Linked DNA regions of Homo sapiens. The protein of the gene in region 2 purifies or fractionates together with the protein of the main gene of each other region. This does not show direct contact. Each region holds a gene or a part of one and is shown on either strand. Other genes may lie near its edges.

What was found.
Region 1: the proteins of KMO (region 2) and GPHN purify together in Homo sapiens (affinity purification with mass spectrometry; 2 studies listed by BioGRID and IntAct, with this or other methods). This does not show direct contact.

Annotation. Positions count from the first base shown.
Region 1 is NC_000014.9:66,502,483-66,512,944, reverse strand, and holds the start of GPHN (gephyrin), read right to left. Parts: upstream 4,799-10,462; 5' UTR 4,418-4,798; coding exon 4,354-4,417; intron 1-4,353. UniProt on the Homo sapiens protein: Microtubule-associated protein involved in membrane protein-cytoskeleton interactions. It is thought to anchor the inhibitory glycine receptor (GLYR) to subsynaptic microtubules.
Region 2 is NC_000001.11:241,534,079-241,543,761, reverse strand, and holds part of KMO (kynurenine 3-monooxygenase), read right to left. Parts: intron 1-9,683. UniProt on the Homo sapiens protein: Catalyzes the hydroxylation of L-kynurenine (L-Kyn) to form 3-hydroxy-L-kynurenine (L-3OHKyn).

The DNA.
Region 1 (10,462 bases), on a different chromosome or scaffold from region 2:
TTAATAGTAATTTGCCTACTTAATGACATCTATTCTCAAAACAGATATAATATGTATATATCCTTATCAATAAATGGGCTTTTCAGAAAATAATATTGACACATAATATACCAGAACAGGTTTCAAGAATGTAAAAAAGTAAATGCTTAAACAATTGCAGAGTTATGACAGTAGCATCTGCTTGGCTCAAGCTTGTTTTTTTAATACTTTGAATGACTTCATTTATGAATAACTGAAATACTCCCTACCTGTTACTGTAATATTTTGATGTTCTCATTTACAATTAGTCTTTTAACTAATCTCTAGTACCTAGTCTTATATTTGTTCCAGTATCTCTTACTGATTTCAAATCAACAGGTTAGTGCAATTAAAATGTATATTACTACAGCAAAAATATGATTTTTAAAAATGCCCTTTCCCAAAAATTTGTACCTTTTTCTCATTCATGCCCCTATTAGTGACAATTTAGGTAATGGATTATCATCTTCAGCTAAGTACCTTGGTATCAAACATTAGCTGTAGCGAACTAATACGATATTCAGTAGCCAATGGAATAATCTATATGATTCTACATTCTATACATACATGTAGTCATTATTTTCCTAGTAATGTTTCTGTAGAGCTTTTACAGGTAAAACTAGTATGCTGCTTTGATAAACAGCTTCTTTCAAAATAGAAAAAAGTATGTGAAGAGTGACATATTCCAGATATAGTGAGCCTGCTATGTAACTGGTAAGATTGACTTCAAGTATAATCACTACTAAAGCTGTTAGAAAAAAATTCTACATCTGCACCACATCCTGTTTCTAGTTTTCAAGTAGCAGATACTTGTTTATTTGCTTCATGTTACTCATTACCATATTACCTCTAGTCTCTTCTATAAATAGTAATACAAGTAGACAACTAATTAGACACAGAAATATTTCAAACTAGACCTTAGGTCACCAAACACCATGTGACTTTCATTTCTGTCAAGTCAACATAAGACAGTTTCGAACAAAGTTATTGTTGTTAGAGATGGACAATAATATTCAACATAAAATGTTTCCACATACAGCCTATTTTATATACATATATGTTCTCATTTTCCTGATTTAAAAAAAAGTATAATTAGAATATCCATGTTACATTAATTATCATAATCTCATTTTCAAGTGCTTAATAATTCAAAATAATGAAGCAAAAAAATGCTTCTGCTAAATATTTCCCTTTCTACCATTATTCTTTCATAAACCTAATACAATTAATTTATTTAATGAGAAGTCTCAACAGACTATGTACTAAATTTGCCAAATTTACAACTGAAATGAAGATAACGAAAACATCTAATGGATGAAAAGTTTCAAAGAACAAATATCTTTCAACAGGTAATAAAAAATGTCACAACGTCAATTAAAAACTTTAGAAATGACAATATGACTTCACAAAATACTAAGTAACATATTGTAAAATGTGTGTGTGGGTAGATCACACTTTCCACTATCTTTGTAAAATAGATATAGATAAAATACTTAAAATTAGTATTACGAAGCATGCCAAGGAGATTTTCTAAAAGAGACCCTCCACCTTTTAAGAGCCACAAATAATAATTTACAAAAACCACAGTTCAACTCAACTTTCTTAAGTATGAAATCACAATACTTCAGTTCAGTAAAGAATAATTCTACATAGTAAAACTGCAAAACCTCAAGTTCTAGAATACACAAAATTGTACAGCACAGCTTCATTTTTGTAAGTTCTTTCCCCCAAATCATATGGTATATCAGGCAAGACCACAGAAATTAAGCTGTTGATAATGAAACCCACTAGTTACAGACTTGAGAAAAATCAGTTTTCTTTCCTCTCCATCATAGTAGACAATATCTGTATCAACAACTTTCAAGAAAAAGCCTGAGTTACTTCTGACTTCAAATATACATGTTATCATCAAAACCTATTTTCCTCTATTATCACTTATTCCAAATCTGTAGCTGCCTTTTCATTCCTTCAGCTACATCCTTGTTCCTGGCCCTAGACTTTTCCCCCTAGACTACTGTACCTCATTCTCATGAGACGGCTTCCCCTGACTGTCTTTAATTCCACTGTCAATGTTAATGTTACCTTCTCTCTAACATTTTACCTATGCCACCTACCCATTCCACTTCAGCTTTTCAAGGCCTTTACATTGCATTTTTATTTAGCTCAGAAGCCTCATCATCAACTATATATTTATTTATAAAGTGGCTGCTGACTTTCAACTCCCCTTAAAATTGACAGTTTCTTCTTGACCTAGTAAATGTATTAAATTCTCCCTTCAGGTAGTCACATTCTCTCCTAATCCATCTGAATACGGAATTTCTTTTGCAGTTAACCCCAAACTCATAGGTAATGTATTTAGAAAAGTTTTGCACAATAATTACATACAATGTTTCTTCATTTGTTTGCGTATCAATGTTATCCATATTAGACTGTAGGGACACCAGATAAGGGCTGCATCTTTCAAAGCAGTCTGTACAACACCTATCTGCTATGTCACTTCACAAAGGTAAGTTGATTCGTTAAATGAAACTATTATTTAATGGAAAGCTTAAGTAGAAAATGTTCATTTTAAAAATGTTTCTACGGTTTAACTTTTAAACATCTATGGCCTTTTTTATTTCCACAGACAACTGACATATTTTGGTTTCTCACTACTCTATTATTGTCAAAGAATGGCTGGAATTTAAAGTGCAAGTTGAGGGTAGATAAAAGATATACACTTTGACATCCCACCATCAGATTATTCGAAAATTGGCAATGTCAGCTCCAGGAATTCTGAAATACAACTGAATCTTCACATACCCAAACAGTTTCAGGACCAAAAGAAGAGAACAGCGCACCTTCTGATTTGGGGGTTCCCTTTTCTGCAACTGGTTTAGACTAGTTTCTCTATCCAAGGGTCTTTTAATTAGGAAAATTCAATTAATCACCATCGATATACGGAAAGAATACCAGGGAAAGGCAATCCTTTACTTAAAAGAGAAAAAAGGAGGCTTTGGATATCACCTTTTCATAAAATTCAGCAGCTAAATTAAGCTTTGCACTCAATATCTGCCGGCAGTCTCAGACATTTTTTTTCTACCTAATAATAAAAGCAAGTCTTATTCAATTTAGTCCCTTCTCGAGCACCGTCTCGACCTGTCAGAATTTGACAGTTAAAGAAAAAATTAAAAAAAGAAGTAAGGGAAACACTAGGATTCCCGTCCACACTGCTTCTTTTTCCGAAATCACATCACTGAGTCTTGGATTTCCTTCACTCCAAACTAAGCCCTCAGATTCCAAATATAGTTCTTTAACCCCCGTCTCGCCACTCAATTACACATAAACCTTGCCAATTACAGAACCACAGCAGAAACCCCTACAAATCCGCTTGCTGTTCATCTTGGAAGTCATGCCCTGCAGCAACTGCCGATCGCCGAAGTGACGGATATTAACCAAATTCAGCGCAACGGAATCAGACATGCAGAACACACACGGCTTTCGCGAGGGAGGGAAACGCGACCCGGGAAAAGTGCGCTCCTCACCAGCCTCGGGACGCTCTACCGGGGTGGGGGTTCCCAGAAAGGAGGGGGAGAGGAGCCCGAGTAGGGGAATCCTGCCCTCTCAAGTAAAAAGCTGGATCCCCGGCAGCAGGCTGCAGCCCGTCCTCGCTAAGGAAACGACGAGGCAGACAGAGGGCCTTTTGCGCGGAAAGGCAGAAGGCAGACACTTTCCGAGGTCCGGACGCAAGCCGATCCCCCATCCCCCGAGGGAGGCGAAGGGTGCCCCATGGGTGGCTGAGGGGACGCCCGGCCCGCGAGGGACAACCCGAGGAGGAGCAGTTTCATCTGATTAACACCTGAGTCTCGTCCAGGCAAGCACAGATACTGGCGTGGGGCCGCCCAGGTGGGGGGAAGGGAAGGAGAGGAAGGGGGTGGAGATGGGATTCCCCCCTCTCTCTGAAGAGCACTAGCGGAGGATGCGCCCAGGCCAGCCGAGAGCGGCATGCTTCAGACTGCGGAGCCGGGATCCCGCCGCCTGCACCGACAGCGCGGAGCCCCGCAGCGCCCTCCGCACCGGCCCCTCGGTCCCCGGGGGCCCAGGACTTTGCTTCCGAAGGCGCTGGGGCCTAACATCCCACGGGGTCGACCCCGGCTCCTGGGGCCTGGGGGAGGGGACCCGCGGGAACACCCCCAATCTCCGGCGGTTCTCAGCGGTTGTAAAATGCACCCCCGCGGTTCCCTTCTTCAGCCTTCCCTCCTCCCGAGGCCGCAGAGAAGGGCCACCACAGGCGAAAAGCCTAAGGCAATGCAGGGACAGCAGCCTCATAGGTCCCAGACCTCCTCCCCCGGTTACCTGTAAGGACTCCGACACGGATTTGATGGTCGTGGTTAGTAAGGATCATTCCCTCGGTCGCCATGTTTCCCAGCGCAGTCACCGCACTGACAGGAGCCGGGAGAAACCGGAGCCCGGAGCGCGCGGGCCGGGAGCGCGCTCGCCGAGGAGAGCGCGACAGCTAGGGAGCCAGAGAAGCGCGAGGAGAGCGGGGAAGGAGGGGGAGGCCACAGAGTGCACGGTGGCCTGCGTGGGGGAGAGGCCGCGCCGGGAGTGCGCGGGTCCGCGGGAGGGGAAGGAGTCAGGGCGCGCGGCCCCAAGTCCGGCAAGAAGGAGGCAAGCTTGGGGGGCGCGGTGGCCGCACGGGGAGAGCGCGCGGAGGCGGCAGAACGAGGCCGGAGAGTGTCGGAACGCTCTGCGGAGCGCGAGACCCAAGGCAGCTAGATGGCAGGACTGAGAGGAAAGGATAGCACACGCTCTGGAGGTTGCGGGGGCGGACTCGGGGACAAGGGCGGAGCTACACCCCTAGGCGTGGAACTCGTGGAGAGTGAGGGGAGGAGTGAGAGCTCGGGTGCTGAGTATTGGGAGCGGGAAGGAGCCGGCCCAGCCTGAGTAGGACCGCGGATCGCTCCTGGGCGCGCGAGTAGCACCGGATTGGCTGAGTGAACGCGGAGCGTGTGCGCGCGAGGCACGAACGCAACCTCGGCCGGGCCCCAGACAGAAGCAATCCCCTGCCGAGCCTGACACCTCGTTGGTTGTCCGCGCCTTAGGCTGGCTCTCGCCGGCGGGCCGGCTTTCTACGCGGGGGCAGCGAGGCTGGCTCAGCACCCCGGGCCTCCTCTTGCAACCCTCGGGAATGGCCGGCCGCCCCACTGAAAGCGCTGGGGAACCGAGAGGTGTCTTAGAAAGCTGCATGAGTGGCAGAACGGTGGCTACTATGACAGAGAGGCCGCCGTGGGCGAAGAGGGAGGTATCCTGTCCTGCCTCGTGCTAGCCGCTGGCTTCCTCAGTGGGCTCTCCCTGAAGGAGGATTTCCGCTTCACCTATGCTTTAGGATTCCATCTCCAGTCAGTGCCTGCAAGACGATCCTCACGTGCGAAACTGAGGAGTCTGAGGCAGGGCAGCTGGAGTGGAGATACCTGGCTTCTCTTCCTCCTGCTGTCCCACGGTTTTGTGGCCTTAAGCCTCTTCGCCATGAGCGCTGCTTTTAGATGAAAAGCATCAATCTCCTTAGCGAACGAGAACGTGTTCCACCTGAACCACAGTCCATTGCCGCGGCGATTTTCATTTCAGTATTCGTGGGATGTGAGATTACCATGAAAGTAGCTTTTGTTGCCATTTATTTCCATGTGCCTTTCATGAAACGTGTTATTAATCACCTGTGGCTATTCTACGTTAGTTTCTTACTATCGTTCTGGACCTTTCAACTTCTGAATTTTAAAAAGTTATATGCGTGTGTGTGTGTGTACACACACTCATATGTATATGTTTTCTCTTCTTAGCTGTAGTAACCTGGAGGCATAAAAGTGAAAAGCAAAGTATTAAAAGATGTATATCAGTGTTTATACACAAATTTCAAAGTCACTTTGATAGGTTTTTTTTTGGTTTTGGTTTTGGTTTTTTTTGATCCGGAGTCTCGCTCTGTCGCCAGGCTCCAGTGCAGTGGCGCGATCTCGGCTCACTTGCAACCTCTGCCTCCCAGGTTCAAGCGATTCTCCTGCGTCAGCCTCCCGAGTAGCTGGAACTACAGGCGCGTGCCACGACACCCAGCTAATTTTTGTATTATTAGTAGAGACGGGGTTTCACCATGTTGGCCAGGATAGTCTCGATCAAGATCTTGACCTCGTGACCCGCCCGCCTTGGCCTCCCAAAGTGCTGGGATTACAGGTGTGAGCCACCGTGCCTGGCCGATTATGAGTTTTTTATTGTTCCGTTGGAACATGAAATTACCCATCCTCTGAAGATTCACGTGCTTATGTATTTCATTTTAAATAATGGGGCCTAAAAGTAGATGATGGATGGAATTGAAGTGGGTAAAATAAATTAATGGCTTTTTTGCTTTTGTTTTTGTTTTTAGTATGTGTATTGCTGGTATTTTTGACAGTAATTAAAAATTTAAGCCAGGTCATGAACTCATTCCCTATCATTGTCACCTTAGATCCTGGTGGCCAACGGGTTGTTAACTAGTTTGAAATGAGAGATAAAGATAAGAAAGTATGTCCAAGAGAATGATTTCCGTTATCTCAAACTAAACATGAAGAGCAAATAGTTGGTTATATTGTTATCTTCCTAACCTATCTCTATTCTCTGCAACACACTCTAAATGATTAGAAAATATCTTGAGCTTATCGTCTGTCTTACATCTATCTTAGACGTAAGGTCTAAACCTGCCCACTAACAGGTTGTGACCCTAAACAAATTTGGGCCTTTTCCTTCATCCTTTAAATAAGATGGTAGACTAAATAAGTACCTTTTAAGTATAGTGGTAGACTAAATAAGCACTCCTTTAATTAGAATATTCTGTAATTATTCATGGAAGAAAACTGGCACTTTATTTCACAAATCAATAATAAGAGGACAAGAGACTAACTTTCTGCATTCATAAAAGGGGTGATGGTTAAATTCATTAAAATTTAAGTGGGAAGGGTGGATATGAATTAAATTTTCTAAAGCAGCAGTCCCCAACATTTTTGGCACCAGGGATCTGTTTTGTGGAAGACAATTTTTCCATGGATGGAGATGGGGAGGGTTGATGGTTTCGGGATGAAGCTGTTCTAGAAAACTGCAGATCATAAGGTATTAGATTCTGATAAGAAGCCACAACCTAAATCCCACGCATCCGCAGTTCACAATAGGGTTCATGCTCCTATGACAATCTAATGCAGCCACTGATCTGACAGGAGGCGGAGCTCAGGCAGTAATGGTTACTGCCTGCTGTGTGGCCTGGTTCCTAATAGGCCACAGATGGGTACCTGTCCATGGCCCAGAGTTTGGGGACCCCTGTTCTAAAGTATATGGAGGTTTATTAACATTCATTATGTTTTACTGACTGTAAGTATTAAAATTCCTAAAAAATAATAATGGAACTAAATTATAATGCTTGTCTTTCAACCGTTTTTCTTAAGTGTATTCATCTTTCTCAAATTCAGCAACCTTTTACAAACCTTACAAAGGAAAAACGCAGTGACTTTACTGTCTAGAGTGAACTTTTACTGATGGTTATTGAATGAATATTATAATATGTACACACTATTACTCTTGTTACAGTGTGACATTCTTCAGAATTCATCCTGGAATCAATATTATGCCAAAGAAAATTTTCTGAAAGGTAGGAGAGAGTGCCATTTTCCAAATATTGATAAATGTCTCAGGAAACATGGGACATGGGGTGTGGTGTGGGTTGGGGTGGGAATTTGTATGTAAATAATTAGAAGTGCCCAGGGAGTTATTCTTTCCATTCTTAGGGTTTTCATCATGAAAACTACAAGAGTTGCCATTAACCATCCAAGACAACATAAAAAAAATAGGTTAACATGTGGCTTTCATTACAATTATCATGGAATGAAACTTTATATTTCAGTAGAAATGAAGTTATTATTATTATTATTATTTTTTGAGACAGTCTTGCTGTGTCAGCCAGGCTGGAATGCAGTGGCACCATCTCAGTTCACTGCAACTTCTGTCTCCTGGGCTCAAGTAATTCTCCTGCCTCAGCCTCCCGAGTAGCTGGGATTACAGGTGTGTGCCACTATGCCTTGCTAATTTTCGTATTTTTAGTAGAGATGGGATTTCACCATGTTGGCCAGCCTGGTCTTGAACTCCTGACCTCAGGTAATCCACCTGCCTCGGCCTCCCAAAGTGCTGGGATTACAGGCGTGAGCCACTGTGACCGGCCTGAAGTTAGTTTTTTCCTAGTACTGGTATATTTACACTTAGCCCACCAGTTAACTCTTAGTTTTTCTGTGGTTAATCACAATTTCTTTTTTTTCTTTTTTTTTTTTTTTTTTTTTGAGACGGAGTCTCTCTCTGTTACCCAGGCCGGACTGCCGTGGCACTATCTCGGCTCACTGCAAGCTCCGCCTTCCGGGTTCACACCATTCTCCTGCCTCAGCCTCCAGAGTAGCTGTGACTACAGGCGCCCGCCACCATGCCTGGCTAATTTTTTGTATTTTTAATAGAGACGGGGTTTCACTATGTTAGCCAAGATGGTCTCGATCTCCTGACCTTGTGATCCACCTGCCTGAACCTCCCAAAGTGCTGGGATTACAGGCATGAGCCACCGCGCCTGGCCCACAATTTCAGTATAAGCAAGGCCAAATCTCATTGGGCTTTTCTGGGTCCAGACTCTCCTCTATGTCTTTTCCTACATGTGCATACCTATGATAAAGTTTAATTATATAGTAGTCACCGTAAGAGATTGACAGAAATAACTGATAATAAAATAGTACAATTATAACAATTTACTGTAATAAAAGTTATGTTAATGTGGGCTCTGTCTCTCAAAATATCTTATTGTATTGTACTCACCTATTTTCAGACCAGAATTAGTTACAGCAATTCTAGGGGAAAAAATACAAAGCCTAATTCAGCCAATTTAAAGTTCTTCTTGACCATAATCTATCTTTCTTTGGGGAAAAAATACATTTAAAGCAACCAAAGCTTCATCCTCACCATTTTTTAAATGGTAAAATACACATTCATAAAATTTACCATTTTAGCCATTTAAAAGTGTACAATTCAGTAGCATGAAGTACACAGTAGCCCTCCCTTATCTGCAGTTTTGCTTTTCTTGGCTTCAGTTACTCTATTTCCCTGAAGCCCACGATTGGAAACCCAGATGTCTGATGACATGCTTGGTTGCAAGCAACTGATCCTAGTTGAAGCCAAAAGAAATTCATTGGCTTATGCAGCTAACAAGTCTGGACTTGTGTAGCTTCAGGGTTGGCTAGATTCAGAGTCTGAAACTATGTCATTAGGATGTCACTTTGAGCTATGCTTTCTTCTTTGTTAACTTCATTCTCACCTTGGCTCTTCCTACATTGCAAAAAGATGGCATTGGCTTCTCTAGGCTGTGTGTGTGTGTGTGTGTGTGTGTGTGTGTGTACACACACAAATATATATTCATATGTTTTTAAGAGAAACATAGTCTCTCTGTGTTGGCCAAGCTGGTCTCAAACTCCTCACCTCAAGATATCCTCCTGCTTCAGCCTCCCAAGTAACTGTGATTACAGATACGAGCCACAGCATCTGGCTCTAGGGTATAATTTAGATCAGTACCCCATTATAGTAAATATTTAGTATATTTAAAATTTTTTAATCTGGAAATTTGAATATAGGTAACCTACTGTATTAGTCTGTTTTCATGCTGCTGATAAAGAGATACCTGAGACTGGGCAATTTACAAAGGAAGGAGGTTTAGTAGAGAACTCACAGTTCTACGTGGCTGGGGATGCCTCACAATCATGGCGGAAGGCAAGGAGGAGCAAGTCACATCTTACGTGGATGGCAGCAGGCAAAGAGGGAATGAGGAAGACACAAAAGCAGAAGCCTCTGATAAAACCATCAGATCCCATGAGACTTACTCACTACCATGAGAACAGTATGAGGGAAACCACCCTCATGATTCAGCTATCTCCCCCCCGTGTTCTTGCCACAACACCTGGGAATTATGGGAGTACAATTCAAGATGAGATTTGGATGGGGACACAGAGCCAAACCATATCACCTACATAAGCAAAAGCTCCATAAAATCCTCAATTTTTACGAATGTAAAGGATCCCAAGAACCAAAACTGAGAATCATAGATTTACATCATGTGCCAATCTGCAAAGCACTTATAAGACAAATTACAAACTCCTCTTTCTCCATTATACTATAGAGGTTATACTTTCCTGAGGGCTCCAGTTTATATACCTTTAATTCTGCCTATATAGTCACATATTAATATTCAGAAGGTAGAGAAGTTCTTCCTAGGTATGTACTGACAATTTACAAATGTACGAAGTTTCCATTTATTTATGTGGCTGTGTATCTGATAAAAGAAGAAAACCAGGAACAAAAATTTTGATTTCTAAAGGAAGCACTAATTTTTCTCCCTCCTGAAAGAAAAAAAAAAAAAGGTAGACCATAA
Region 2 (9,683 bases):
TTAGGCTCATGAAAATATTAAGTGCTAGAGAAGATGAGGCCTAATGGGATCTCCTACACATTGCTTGTAATTATCTTTTCAAGTTGGATATTCACATATTGAACAAACCAGCAATTCCTCTTAAAGGCATATACACAGGAGAAACTTTTGCTATATGTATATTGGGTGACATGTGCCAGGTTGTTCAGTGTAGTGCCTTTCATAACTAAAATAGACAAACAAAAAAGCGGGGAATAGCCCGAATGACTATCAGAGTGGAATGAACGAACACATTATGGCATATTCACACAGTGAGATATGATATGAATATATTAGCAAGACTATAAGTGAAAAAATAAGACTCAGATAATTTTATACTGCATGATACAAAATGAAAACAATCAGAACTAAACTATAGACATATGCAAATACATAGTTTTTGAAACACATAAGTAGTATTCATATGTACGTGTATACATGAGATAAATATGTAAATAATATAGGATAAAACTATATATAAAGAGGCAAGGGAGTGACAAATAAGACTTGGCATAATGCTTCTAATGGGTGGGGGACGAGTACAGAGTTGATGAAGTCACTGGCACTCTGTCACTTCTTGTGTTGAGTAGTAGATTCATGGCCGCTTATTGTTATTATTATTAATAAACAAACAAACAAGGAAGTAAAAGTGTTTTCTCCAAGACCAGTCATAATACTGTGTAAGGAAATAGATCTCGTATAAATATGACCGCAATTCTGTGTAACGGAGGTTCAAATAAATTTAAAGAAAAAATACAATAGTAGGTGTTACGTCGGTTCAGCCAGAAGGGGTAGTAATGGGCGTGGCTAACAATATAGCTTTCAGACTGTAATTTTCTTTCCCCTCTCACTTTCTGTAAAAAGTGCTTAATTGGGAATAACTGCCAGTGCCATCTTGAGTTGTTAAGCTGGCAGGAAGGACTAAGACAGAAATATATAAGTGGAAAGAAAATGTGGTGTGTAAAGCATGCTAAGCGCACCACACACTCTTGGTTAAGGCACAGCTGGGTTCCTGAGCATAAATAGTGAAGGAGGACAGCACAGGAGAGAAGAAATTGGGCAGGGTTAGACAGCTGGGAGAAACAAAACTATTTTTTGATTCTGGTTCTGAGGGTAAAGCCTTAATAGAGACAGGACTGTTCCCAGTAAGGACATGAACAATTATGAAAAGTTTCTGTATTTGTTTCGAAGCACCAAACGTTCACGATAGTGAGATGTTTGCTCACAAAATAATTTTGCAAATTAAACATTTTTATGAATAACCAGTCTAACCTGTTTGTGTGTACAAGACTTTGAGGACATTCCTTGGTTACATAATTATGGATTTACCCAATGTATCATTATCTCGCTTCTCCACTTTCTTCTGTCTCGTCATACTTCCTTATTTACAGGTCATGTGCTGTATAGGGATGCCTAACCTACCACTTAAAAATATTATTTGAATATTTCCTTTCTATAAATGTTGAGGTATGCTTCTCCAGTCTTCCGTTGCTGAGCTTTTCTGTCAGTTCCCATGTGACCCCTCTAACAGCAATTGTTCAAGTAGCCAATGATCATGAGAAAACTGTAAACCATTTAAATTTATAAATGTTGACCCTTGAATCTTACATTGAACTGATAAGCAACAAAAAAATAAAAAGAAAGAAGGAAAGGGAAAAACTGTGATCCTATTAGGAAGAGGAAACAGGATTATAAAAATTCCGTACATTTTATGTCTTTTGATATAATATATTTGAAATTAATCTGATAGTGCAATATTAAACATTTGTCAACTACTTTTGACTTAATGAAGCGTATAACACCTTCCCTAATCCTTAAGAATCATGAATGTTTCTGAGTTTTCTGTCTATCTAACTTTTAAAAAGCTTGTTAATAGTGTTGAAATCCATATTTGGTCATGAAACTATAGTTTGACGTCTCAAGATTTTGATCTTTGGGTATATCAATGCAATGAGAAGAATCAGACTGTTAACTCTACTTACAATGCAATAAGCACATCAGTGTCTTCATACTTTGTTAGTAAATATTACATCTTCCAGAATTGCATATGTTATGCCAAATATTGTTTTATTATTTAATCCTTACCCTGAGTTCTCTAATCTGTGTCATCTGGAATTGATCTCTAAAGCCAAGCAGTGGTCTTGATTTTCCCTCTTATGAGAAGGTGAATGATGCACATTCCTGAGTGCTCTTAAGAAAATTTATGACTTTTACTCTAGTCTTGATCTTCGTCCTGAACTCCATCTGTGACTACTGAACCTGTCTATAGGCATCTCCCTCTCAACATAGCTAAAAGTTGACTTATTCCCATTCCTCAGCCCTCTCATTCTCCTTCTTCTGTATTCTGTATTCCATAAACTTTCTTCCTCCTTATATATTTCATATCTTAGAGAATAGCAATTGCATTCACTAATTCACCCAACCAGGGTAGCTCGGTGAATATTTAACACCCCTCTCTACCTACCAGTATACATGAAGCTAGGCAATACGTCCTATTGATTGTTCCTCTTCAGTCTCTCTCACAGCAGATCTTCTGCTACCCACAGCTCTGTCCTTACATGGGGCCCTCATTAGCTTTTACCAGGCTACTGCAACCGTTTTCTAATAACCCTCTTTCCCCAGTCTGTATGCATTCAATCTGTACTCTGCACTAGAACTAGTCATCTTCTTTTTATTTTCTTTTTAGACAGGGTCTTGTTCTGTCACCCAGGCAGGCATGCAAGGCTGAGATCATAGTTCACTGCAACCTTGAACTCCTGGGTTCAAGTGATCTCCTGCCTTGGCCTCCCAAGTAGCTGTGATTACAGGTGTGCTGCTATGCCTGGCTAATTTTTTTAATTTTTGTAGAGACAGGATCTTGCTATGTTGCCAAGGCTGGTCTCAAACCCCTGGGTTCATGTGATCCTTCTGCCTCGGCCCCCCAAACAGCTGAGATTATAGGCATGAACCATCATGCCCAATCACTAATTATCTTCTAAATAAGATGTTGAATGATTATTTTTGTCTTACAGTTGTTTATTAGCTCCTTATCTTTTCAGGAAAAAATTCCAAATTTTCAATATGACATAATGGATTCTTACATGTGATCCCAACCTCTTTCTCCAGTTCATTATGCACTATTCTCATGCACTATCTCATGCACTATTCTCTTGCACCATCTGTAATAGGCATACTAAATTTACTATATGTTTTCTGAATATGCCATGCACTTTTATTCTTCCATGCCTTTGAATACTATCCTTCCCTGCCTTATATTCAGTTTTTGGAAAATGCCTACCTTTCCTTTAAGACTCATATCCTCAGTGTAGTTTTTCCTGATACCTCTACTCCTCCAAAAGACTTGTTTGCCTTTTCTTCTGTAATTATATATATATATGTATATAGATGTGTTTTAATGTCTCAAGTACATTGAATTATTTATTTATAGTCTTGTCTGACTTCCACCAGGCAGTAAATTCCCAGAGAGGAATAATATTTGCATGGCTTGTATTTTGTCTTTTTATCTCTGATATAAACCACAAATTCTAATGAATTAGAAAATACAGGTAAATGTGAAGAAAAAAATAATTCCTCACAATTTTACCACCAATGGCAACCAATATTAACATTTTCTATGTATATAAAATACATGATATTTCTTTTCAAAATGGTAACAGGTTGTATATTTTCTTTCATAATTTCTTTCAAAAAATGAAAAGTGTACTCTAAATACATTTCCACGTCAAAAGATGTCTGAAGTAAAAGCATTTAATACTTGCATTACATTTGATTGTAGGCAGTGTGCTTATATTTGGATATTCAAGTTATTTTAATTCTTTAGCATTATAGACAATTGTATGACGCATACACGTTTCTTTTGATAAAATCTCACTAATGAAATGGCCCACCAAAGGGCAATTTTGAATAAAAGGGATTGAAACACTGGCCAATTCCGAGCTCCACACCCTCCTTCTACCTGCCCCGTTGGCTCCTGGGCCTTATTACTAGTGGGGGAATGGAGTAAGGATAACAGGGGAATGAGAAAACAAAGAGGGAAAGAAGAGAGTCTGAAGTGAGCTGCGGAGAGAATATTGATGGTCTAGAGCGTAAGAGGAGCCTGCTCAATCTTCCTTTGTCTTGCTTTTGGAATAACTGCAAAGCACACGAAAGAGATTCAGATTGACTGGGGCAATATCATTTCAGAAGGTTTTGTTGGGAGTTTTGAATACACTCCAGATTTGATGTTTTTGAGAGCCTACATTAGATTCTATTTGCTTTTAATTTCTCATTGGCTGAAGGACAGTTGTTACTCTGAATGCAATGCCATGCTTAGGCCAACTTCAAGGGTGAAGTAGCTATTGCTGCTTTCTGGAATTTTTTTGAGACGGAGTCTCACTCCGTTGCCCAGACTGGAATGCAGTGGCACGATCTCAGCTCACTGAAACCTTTGCCTCCCAGGTTCAAGCAATTCTCCTGCCTCAGCCTCCCGAATAACTGGGACTACAGGCACACACTGCCATGCCTGGCTAATTTTTTTGTGTTTCAGTAGAGATGGGGTTTCACTGTGTTACCCAGACTGGTCTCGAACTCTTGAGCTCAGGCAATCCACCCACCTCGGACTCCCAAAGTGCTAGGATTACAGGCCTGAGCCACCGTGCCCAGCCAAATCCCCACTATTTTTAAGACTACAGATGTGTATATTTTCAAGTTGTTTTCCAGGAAAAAAATACCGGCTTAGATTACCATCAACAGTGTATGAGGGTGCTCTTTTTCTTTGAGTAGACAGATAGAGGACTAGACGAATGCATGAGTGAATATGGACAGAAGGGAAATAATCTGAGAGTATTTGGGAGGAGGATGCGCCAAATGAGAAGGAATGAAAGACACACTCTTTGTAGGCACTTAACAAAGTCTGGAGCTGTCTAAAGTTGTTGGTTCCATTCCAGATACTTCCCACCAGATAGCAAATGAAGGAATCTCTGAGGGATGAATTCCCTGAGGTGAGAGTGGGATTTATGAGGCACAGCCACAAAGAAATCCATTCCACCTCTGTTTTTAGAAGGTGCTAGATATGGGCCACTAATGAGAGTTTTTCATATTTAAGAAGGCTCAGAGCCTATGAAATAGAAAACTGAAACCCAGGTCTAACATGGTGAGGCCCACCAAACAGCCTGCCTTGCTTGCTTTTTATTGCTTACTTCTAGTTGATCTCAAAGCCCATATAGCTAAAAGTCATGTAGCCAAACAATATACATCTAATCTGTCACTAGCTTCCTTATAGACAACGTCTCTGGCATGTATGTCACTATGGTAATAGTTGCTTAAAGTTTTTGTTTTTGTTTTTGTTTTCAGGAACTAGGTGTTCTTACCCAAGTTAAACTACTTGAAAGAGACCACCAACCCTCTTTCTACCTTGCCCATTGACTCCTGGGCCTTATTACTATGGAGTAAGGATAATAGGAGAATGAGAAAGCAGATAGAAGAAGGAAAGAAGAGAGTTGCAGGCCCTTCAACTGGGCCTGCACAAATGCCCAAGAAGTGACTTTCTGATACCAGAAGGCCAAAAACCTCACCTTCACAGCATGCTAATGCCACCATTTTCTGAACATGTGTCCTATGAAGAGTCATGAACCTTGATTATGCATGCTCAGACCACCTATTCATTTTTCCCCACTGCTAATCACCTTCCCCACACCTTAGACCACCCTGCTTCTTTACCCCATAAATATCTCTAAGCCCTATCTTTGGAGAGGTGGATTTGAAAGCTGTTCTTCCATCTCCTTGCTGGGCTGTCCTGTGAATAAAATCTTCTCTTTACTGCAAAACTTGTTGATATGGTTTGGTTGTGTCCCCACCCAAATCTCATCTTGAATTGTAGCTTCCATAATCCTCATGTGTTGTGGGAGGGACCCAGCGGTAGGTAATTGAATCATGGGATTGGGTCTTTCCCATGCTGTTCTCGTGATAGTGAATGAGTCTCATGAAATCTGATGATTTTATAAAGGAGAGTTCCCCTGCATGCCGTCTCTTGCCTGCCACCATGTAAGACATGCCTTTTGCCTTTCACCATCATCATGAGACCTCCCCAGTCACGTGGAACTGAGTCCATTAAACCTCTTTTTCTTTATAAATTGCCCAGTCTCAGGTAGGTCTTTATCAGCAACATGAAAACGGATTAATACACTTGTTATCTCAGTAACTGACTTACTGCATGCTGGGCAGAACAAGCCTAGTTTGGTATCAAAACAAGAGTAGAGCAAATAGAGCTTAGTTTATTTTCACATTGATAAAATAATAACAATAAAGGTTAACAGTAATTATGTCTTTTTCATGGTATAGCTCATTAATATTTGCAAAAAATATAAAGTATGCACTTGAATCAAATTCTGTGTAGACCTCAACCCAGGATTATAAGCCATTTGATGGTTCATATGCACTGAGGACGTTTACTTCAGGGAAAGTGAAAATTCTGGGTGACATTTGATTTCTTTTTTTAGAAAGGAGTAGGTTGAGAACAAAGCTAGAGATCTGTGAGCGAGAAAGTGTGAAAAAGAAGCAGTAGAATTTTAGTGTTAAAAGACTAGCAATCTAGTTTTAGTCCAAGAGGAAGAAACTGAGACCCATAGGGTAAGATTTCCTGAGTGTCCAGCTGGTTGCAAACTCTGCTATTCCCAGTCCCCTCAATGAATAATGTTTTTTCCATCCCATGAAGCTGAGTGAAGAGTAAGTGGTGAGGTGGAAAAATCCTAAGAAGAACAGAACAGAAACACCATTTGGGGACAGTTTGGCATCAAGACCATTTTGAGCCTATAAATCCATGACAGGATTTAACATCTATAGCTGTGAGACATAAACTCTCATAGAGTCAAGGTCAAGTTGCCTCAAAAGCAATTTCATCAGCAGAGGCCACTGACTTGACTTGAATTCCAGGGGGCAGGGCACAATTATCAACAATAAGTCAAAATACGTACAAATCTCCTCACCCTCTAAATACTACTAAATGGAGAACTTTCCTGGGTCAAACATAGGGAGAGTAGATCACAAAGCTCTCTACAGTGGGGTTTCTTTTTTGCAGAAAGGAACAGAAGAAATATTTGAATGATATCCTAAAATACATCTCCAAAATACATGCTAGAATAGTGGACATACATTGCAACAGCAGGAGTCAGCTGAGACTGGAATGCTTAATAGCCCTCTTACCAAGGCTCTTGGCTTCAGTCAAAAAATGGTGTCTTGAGTAGCTTTAGCTGTCACTGAAATGGTGCCTTTTTGCTCTGATCACTTTCGTCATACCTGTAAACACTGAAAACAGTTATCAAAAGCAGTATTTTCTGAGTCTTAAGGACTGAATTCAGATGTGGATTAAGGACACTTGTTTAGCTTAGATGGCCTTTGTTTACTTCTCTGGCTTGTCTACTTCTCTCTCACTTCATAAAGAAAAGAAAACATATCACTCTAACATGAAGTAAGGCAGTTTGTATGGCAGTTTTTTTGTAATGCAGGTTTTTTTTGAAATGATGTGCTAGAATTGAAAAGCTACACTGTAGAACTCCTTCCAGCATGCAAAATTGAGATTATTTTCCAAATCCTTTTTTAAGTTACTCATTGAAAGGACTACATTCCTCATGACATAATTGTGTTAAAAAAAAAACTCTTTAAAAATTTCCCATAACTTCTAAAGGAGTGATTCTCCACTTTGTTCTGAAATCAAACTCATGCACAGAAAATATTTTAGTGTGGCTCACATTATAAGGCACTGGGAAACCTTTATAAAGGTAGCAGGAGCCAAAGATAAAATAATCTTTAGATCTACGAAGTAAAAAGCTTCTATGGGGAATAAACTATGCATAACAAAATTTTAATAGAAGGCAGCATTTGATAATGACAAACAAAGCCCTGTGGGCATTTAAAGAGAGGAGAAGCCTTCACAGGTTGATTGTCCTGCAGTTACCTTCTGGAACTAGCAGGAGGTAATCCCATTGGCTGGAGAAGGGATGGGGGAGTTGTAATTCACACAAGGAGGAAAATATCAGTCAATACAGGGGTCTTTCTAAATATTTAGGTCAATGTTCTTGAAATGCTATTTTAACATCTTTTCCCACTTGTTTTTCAATATTTAAACTTTACCTGGTTTATGATTATGGTTTAGTTTCTTTTACCTTTTGTTTCTCATTAGGAGTTTTTTTACTGGTTTGTTGATCTCTTTGACTGAACATGTCTTCAAAGAAAGGAAATCAACTGGTTTAACCCAATATCAGATGATCACTACATCAGAGCAAGAATAACTTCTCAGGGTGACTTTTCATTAGGCAAGTTTACTAGACATGGTAAGCTACCACTGATAAGAATTGAGGGAAGTTCACTATATTTTTTGGATGTCTAAGTAAAGGTTCTCAACTCTCATTTTTTTTTCTAGGGGCCAGGGGAGAGCCTTTAATGTGTTAGACAGTATAAGGTACTGGGATATGGTTTATGGAAAGGAGGAGGTAGGAAGGGAGGGTGGAAAAAAAAACAGAAGAAGATGGGCAAAAATGTAATCTTGTCCTCTATGTAAAGACATTAACCTTCTTGAATTGCTCTATTTAGTCAATACTTTTAAAAATAATTTTCTCAATATTCAAACATGCATCTGTTATTATTTTTTCACCTTTATATCATTAAGTTTTCTCATTCCTCTCATTTATTCATCCACCCAATACATAATGTTAGGCATAATTACAGCCTCTGGAATACATTGGTTAATAAGAGTTTATATCCTAGTTGGAGTAGATATCTAAGAAACAGGTTAAAAAAAAAAACCCAAAGTGTGTAATTTCCGATACTGGTAGATAAGATTAACAAATAAAAAGGGAAAGGGGTGAAGCCAGAAAGGCAGATAGGCTTAGTTCAGACAAGACCTTTGGTAAAGAGTTTGGGTTTTATTTTATTTGTAATGGGAGATCATTGGAAGATTTTAAGCAGGGGATGATAATGATCAGACTCATGTTTTAGAAGGGTGTTTCTGGCTGTGGTGTGTAGTATGGACTATAAGGGAAAAGGAGTTAAAGCTGGGAGACTAATTTGGAGCTTGTTGCAGGAATAAGGATGGCGGATGATAATGGCTTGGGCCAGGATGGTTGTAATGGCTAGAATTTAAATGTATTTTGGATATAGAGCCTCAAGGCTTACTGATGGAGTGAAAGAAGAATAAGCGTTTGCACAAAATGACAATAGGAATCAAACATGATGCGTAAGCATGGACTTGAACAATAGGATGGATAGAATTCTTTTGCAGAGGAATTTTAGTTGCTCCCTAATACGCAAGTAGTAATTTTTGTCTCCTATTTTCCAGCATATGTATGACGTGGTTACATGATGACAATCTCATGTTATTCAGGGAGAAATCCATGGATGACACCCACATTTTTATGCCCCCCAAAACCATATATACAATCACATATTTGTTATCTCTCCCTTGGATTTCTAAGAGACAATTTTTAAAATGAGACATCACTGCTGCCACCTTAGTCCAAGTCTTGAGCTAACGTAACAGCCTCCTAACTGGTCTATCTTGTCATCTTAAAATGTTCCTAGTCATTCTCCACATAATGGTCCAAGGGACCTTTTAAAATCACAACTTAATTTCCTGCCTAAAATCCTCCAATAGTTTCCCATTGTAATTTGAACAAAATCTGATCTTCTTGCCT